Homo sapiens: one gene and its partner. The protein of the gene in region 1 purifies or fractionates together with the protein of each later gene. This does not show direct contact. Each region holds a gene or a part of one and is shown in the gene's direction. Other genes may lie near its edges.

Region 1 (2,850 bases):
GGTGATGTCAAAGGTATATGATACTTGAGGAAATCAGGCCAAGTGTAGCTGAGCAATTAATAAACACTCAAGTTTTTTTAGTTGGGGTCATGTCAAACCCTCACATGGTGGTTAAGTAGTGACTAACTGTGCATGTCCTTCATGGTAGGTGAGCACCAGTCTCCATGATCAAAAATGCCCCAGTTTCCTTTGAAAAAGCCACTAGTTCTGTGAATTGTCCTTTTCCCTCCTGCCCCTAACAGTCCTACCCCTCTAGCCTACATTAGCATATTTCTCATGTAATGTATTTTGCTGGTAAGCTCATCCATTAGCTGCGTCCTTCAGCTATTCCTTTAGATTGGAGGAAGTGGATATGAAGATGGATTGATTCAGCTCACCTTCCATGATTGCTTTTGAGGGAAAAGCTACAGTGGCCACATTTCAGATGTTCACTTTTGCAATTTGTGGAGGGTGGAGAGAGGTAGACTTTTGTTGTGTGTTTTATAAAGTACTCTCAGTAAGGAGTGTTTGAGTTGAAGAGTCATCTGATTCGAGGCCACTCATGTTCTTTGTAACTTAAACTTTGACCAAGAAATTCTTCACTTCTCACTTCTTCACTTCTTCCCAATATACAGTAAGTACGTGAGCCAGTCATCCATACACTAAGGCCTAGTTGAGAAAAACCTTTGATTCAGGATGGCTGGGTTACTAACCTTGAAATGTAAGAGATCTGGTTTTGAATGTAAAAGTTGCAACACACAAACGGAAGTCTTAAAAACTTTTTGCTCTGGTCAGTTACAGGTGGATCCCCAATAATCTGTTTTTGGTTTTCTGATGGAAATAATAGAATTAGGGGAAATCAAATCTGGTTGGTAGGTGTCTACAGTATTAGAAGAGGGTATAAGGGCACTGTTTAACACTAAGTTCTAATACTTCCAGAAACTGTGCATTCCAGATCTACATACTAAATGCTCTTATCATTTTGAAATGGGCTCTTGATTAATAGACCCATATTTTTTAGTGGCTTCTATGTTGTATATTTGTCTAAAATGAAAGCTCTTTTGCGTTCTAAAACTACAATATATGTCATCTTATTTTCCCTGAGTATCCAAGTATAGTGCAGATTCTATGTAAAACTACTAAATGACACTGGAATATGTTTAGTAGATTAGGGGGAAAAACTATAAAGGTTTATACAATTGTTTGTAGTTACATTTAGGATGGACTTATCCCTTTGGAGAAGAGTGAAGTTTGTTTTTTCGCCATGTGATGAAGACCACTGTGATTTTTTAAAAAAGTAGATAATACTTAAAATGGCGTAATAATTCTGCACTTGAATTTGTACTGTTAACAGCACATTTGGAAGATTTTAAAACTTTTTATTGTCTTATAAATAGCATTCACTTATTATTTTGGATATTTAAGGGTTCCATTAAGTTAACACTGTATTTGGACAAAGTGTGACCAAATTAGCCAGTCTGTTTTCTTCCATGTTTAATTAGAAGTGAGAGGTAGAAGTACTTCAAATTCAACAGGCCAGCAAGCAATCGGCTTAAAATTCCCTTTCTTAAATGTTGTGCTCTTATGTTCTCGGCTTTTTAATGACTTTATTTTTACAGTACTTGTTCAGTCACTTGAGATGAAATGCTTGGGGTAGCTTTTCCATCCTCAAACTTAATGTTTTTACTAGTTCATAGTGTTTGGAACAGTATATGCCAATCACTGAGACTGCATCAGAGTTTGCAATTTTGTATGTTTCATTGCCAAAGAAGGCTTAGTGGTTGTTGACTGTAGTATAAGTCAGCTTTCTGTAGCATAAGATTTGATTTTCCCATACTTACTTCACTTGTTATACATCACTGATTATTTGGGTTAAACTGGACTCATTTCAAGCAGTTTGCTTTTGTTCAAATCGTGATGAGAAACCTAATACTGTAATTTGATTTGAGCCATAAAACACATTTTAATATTAGCTTGTATTATAGTTATTAAGCTTGTTTTTGTGGAAAAAAACTTACTAAAACCTAGGTAACTCTAGATTAGGCCAGTTCAGGTGTATTTTGTATCTTAGTAATGGATCATATCGTAAAAATAGAGATAAGTTGGGAAGATATATTGATTATGCTGTTCTGTTGAGGGAAAGGTCATGTATTTAGAAATTTAAACTTTTGGTTATTGTGTTCACATCATAGTATTCAAGCATCATTTATAGTTTGGTTTTGAGAACTTTTCTGGTATTACGTTTATGGCAAATGTATAAAAGAAACAAGTTTTGGTTATATTTTTATATTTGTAAAGTAAGTTTGGTTAAAGTGATCACTGTTCTTTTTTTATTTTATTGTCATTTCAATAAAAAATATTTGAAAGAGAATGACTCTGTGATTGTTTTGGGATAGTAGTCCTGTATGTGTGGCTGCTGATCCTACTGTGCTAGTAGAAATCTTGCATGGTTCGTCACTGTGAGTGGCCGAGGGCCTTTAGGTAAGAGACAGCTTAGCATAATAGCAAGGGCCTGATGGCCTGGGTCACTGATGTTGCCCTCTCCTTGTGCCCCACACACTCCCTCCTCCCATTGTGTGTTAGCAGTGTTTCAGTTTCCTGAGGTGTGAAAGGGTCACTAGATTTGGAACATGAAGGCCACAAGTTAGAAGTTGCTACACAGTTGTGTTAACTGTGTGTAGTCCATATCATTGGGGACTGAGTCCGAGTTTCCTCATCTGTAAAGGGAGGGTTGACTCCTTTAGTTTTTTTTCTCAAACTTGCCTGGAATTCATAATGTTCTATGACACACACCATACCTGCTGCATATGTAATACTGTGTAATTCAATGTTATCTTAAATAGAAAGTTTACCCAAAATACGGGAATATAT
Region 2 (3,736 bases), on another chromosome or scaffold:
TATCAATTTTAAGTGTATAATGCAGTAAGTTTTGACAAATACATCCAGTCCTGTAACTGCCATCATAGTTACGACATAGAATATTTTCATCACCCCTGAACAATTTCCTCTTGTCCTTTTGTAGTCAAGTTTTTGCTGTAACCCCTGACTTCTGGCAGCCACTGATCTGATCTCTGTCATAGTTTTCCCATTTTCCTTAATTCAGATTATTATCAAGGGCCTGCTACTTTTTGAATTGAACTAAATAAGAAATGTACCCATCATAAGCAAAGTAGAAAAATCTAGATATAAAGTAACTCACTGATTGACTTCTTCAAGGGCCAGTGTGGCTTCTTCAGAGCTAATGAGAGCTAGCTTGGTGGTGGTCTTGGTTCCCTTTGAGATTTCATGACTGTCTCCCTTCACGCCCAAGAGCGAGCTTCACTGGCTTCTCCATGCCTTTCAGAGCCTGTTCATCCGAGCAGTGCGGGCATACAACGGTGAGAACTGGAGAACATCCATCACAGACATGGAGCTGGCCCTTCCCGACTTCTTCAAAGCCTTTTACGAGTGTCTCGCAGCCTGCGAGGGTTCCAGGGAGATCAAGGACTTCAAGGATTTCTACCTTTCCATAGCAGGTTGGTGGTAGGTCAATAGGCTCACTACTCCCATGGAATAGTCTTCCTTAGATGTCTGGTTTCTGCCTGCATGCCTGCTAGATGCCTGGAGCAGCCTCTGAGGAATTTTTGAGCATACTTATTAACGGGTAACTGAGGGTAGTCACCACCTGCATAGATAAACCTTTGACTTGGCAGGGGCTTCTAGTGAAATCACTGAGAGAAGGTTCAAGCACAGGCCTGCCAAGGTAGAATTCTGTGTCTGCCCTACTTGCTTACAGATTTCCTACAGTCATTTTGAAAAATAAAAATGGGCCCAGGAGCACCTCAGTGACTCACATTACTGAGATAACTTTGATGATGGCAATTTTCCAACACATATAAAGGTAGAATGAACCTTTAAGTGGCCATCACTAAGGTAGCTTTTTGAAATTTTCTTTTCTGATTATAAAACAATGTGTGCTCATTATAGGAAGTTTGGAAAACACAGAAAGGAAAAATGAAGAAAGGAAGAAAATGTAAAACTCTACACATAGGTAGCCCAGATTTCTCTATAGTGCCTAGACATTTCCCAAGTGCTTTACTGGGCAGCATCACTCCAGAAACTGGGAAATGGCTAAGGGAAGCTCTTTCCCAAAGTGGTTTGAGAACACTGATCCTAGAACTGTGCCTTCCTGAAAGCACTAGATAAGTAAAATCTGGACTGTACCTTGGATAAAGGTATCATGTCTATGTACTTGTAAATAAGTCTGGGAATGGGCTGAGCACTGACTGCATCTCCCACTTGAAGAATCATTGTGCACTTTAATGGTTAAAGGCCCTTAGAAATCCTGCAGTAGAGAAGCTCTTTTAAAGTTATTGAATCCAGCGTTTTCGGTTTTGTTTTTTTTTTTCAGTCACTTTTTATTCATTAATCTCTTTCTACAAAGTAGGTTTTTTTTTTTTTTTTTTTTTTTTGCCTTAAGAAAACTTCTTGTTATGGAAAATTTCAAACATACACAAAAAACAGAGAGAAGAGTAGATAAACCACCATGTACCCATGACCCAACTTCACAATTGTCAACTCATGGCTACTTGAGCTTCCTCTAATTCCCACCTACTTTTCCTCTCATGTTATTTTGAAGCGGATTCCAAATGCCATATTATTTCATTTGTAATATTTCAGTATATACCTTTAGAAGGTAAGGACTCTTTGTTTTTTAAACATAACACCAAACTATTACCCCTGTAAGAATTTTAACAATCATTCTTTGATCTCATCATTAAATACCTAAACAGTGTCCCAATCATTTCAGAAATGTCATAAATACATGTGTGTGCCTTTAATTTACCATTTGTTTGAATCAGGATCCAAATAAGGTCCATCCATTGCAATGGGTTATCTCTTGAAAATTTTTATTGTGGTAAAATATACGTTAATATGAACTTTATTATTTTAGCCATTGTTCAATGTACACTCCAGTGGCATTGACTACATTCACATGATTGTGCAACCATCAGCACCATCCATCTCTAGAACTTTTTATGTTTCCCCAAATTGAAACTCTGTATGCGATAACTCCCCATATCCCCTTCCCCCCAGCCACTGGCAACAACCTTTCTACTTTCTGTCTTTGTGAATTTGACTACTCTAGATACATCACGTAAGTGGAGTCATACAGTATTTGCCTTTTTGTGACTGACTCATTTCACTTGGCATAATGTCCTCGTTTCATCCATATTGTGGCAAGTTGGTTATCTTTTATGGCTCGTTTAATCCATAGGTTCTTCCGCCATATCTTTTCCCCTTTGCTATTGAAGAATCTGCATTTTTTGTCCCGTAGAGATTCCCATGGTCTGGGTTTTGCTGACTGTATCCCCATGTTCCTCTGTCTTCTGTATTTCTTGTAAATCGGTAATTGGATGTAGAGGCTTGAACAGGCTCGGTTTGATTTTGTTTTAGGGTTTTAAATTTTGGTGGGAGTCAACTGCTTCATAGTTGATGCTGAGTTCTTTCATCAGGAGGCACATAATGTCTGTGGTTTCTCTCCATCTATCTTTGATACAGCTAAGATATATATGTATTGTAAATCAAAGAGTATCTGAGACAAGTCTCAATCAATTTAGACAGTTTATTTTGCCAAGTTAAGGATGTACTTGTGACACAGACTCAGGAGGTCCTAACAACATATGCCCAAGGTACTCAGGGCACAGTTTGGTTTTATACATTTTAGGGAGACATGAGACATCAATCAATATATGTAAGATGTACATTGCTTCAGTCCAGAAAGGCAGGACAACCCAAAGTGGGAGGGGGTTTCCAGGTCATAGGTAGGTGAGAGACAAATGGTTGCATTCTTTTGAGTTTCTGATTAGCCTTTCACTGAATATGCAATTTGCAGGAATAGTCACTTATGCTTTAGTCTGGCTTAGTGAAACAACAGAGCAAAGGAAACAACCATATATACATTTGTTCCATGTGAGCAGAGGGATGACTGAGTTCTGCCTGTCCTTTGTCCACAAAAACTTCCTTGTGGGCAAATTATGAGAGAGATTTGTGGCTTTTTTTTTTTTTTTTTAAATTTTTGTAGCTATCTTATTTAGGAATAGGATGGGAAACACATTTGTCCTACATGGTTCCCAGCTTGACTTTTCCCTTTGGCTTAGTGATTTTGAGGTCCTGAGATTTATTTTCCTCTCACAGTATAGATATATAGATATTTAGAGTTTCTTTAGTTTTTATTTTTAAATAATTTCAAACTTGTAGAGAAGTCGGAAGAATCATACAAAGAACTCTCATGTACACCTTACCTAGATTCACCAATTTGTAACATTGATTGTGCCACATTTACTTTATTGCTCTCTCCATATGTGCTGTGGGTATAATTATTATTGTTATTATTTTATTTATTTATTTATTTATTTTTGACATGGAGTTTCCCTCTTGTTGCCCAGGCTGGAGTGCAACGGCGCGATCTCGGCTCACTGCAACCTCTGCCCCTTAGGTTCAGGCAATCCTCCTGCCTCAGCCTCCCGAGTAGCTGGGATTACAGGCATGCACCAACACGTCTGGCTAATTTTTATATTTTTAGTAGAGACGGGGTTTCACCACGTTGGCCAGGCTGGTCTCGAACTCCTGACCTCAGGTGATCCACCCACCT

Evidence for each region.
Region 2: the proteins of NUDT21 (region 1) and CRTAP purify together in Homo sapiens (affinity purification with mass spectrometry; one large-scale study listed by BioGRID and IntAct). This does not show direct contact.

Annotation. Positions count from the first base shown.
Region 1 is NC_000016.10:56,428,633-56,431,482, reverse strand, and holds the end of NUDT21 (cleavage and polyadenylation specificity factor subunit 5), read left to right. Parts: 3' UTR 1-2,350; downstream 2,351-2,850. UniProt on the Homo sapiens protein: Component of the cleavage factor Im (CFIm) complex that functions as an activator of the pre-mRNA 3'-end cleavage and polyadenylation processing required for the maturation of pre-mRNA into functional mRNAs.
Region 2 is NC_000003.12:33,123,963-33,127,698, forward strand, and holds part of CRTAP (cartilage-associated protein isoform 1 precursor), read left to right. Parts: intron 1-445; coding exon 446-617; intron 618-3,736. UniProt on the Homo sapiens protein: Necessary for efficient 3-hydroxylation of fibrillar collagen prolyl residues.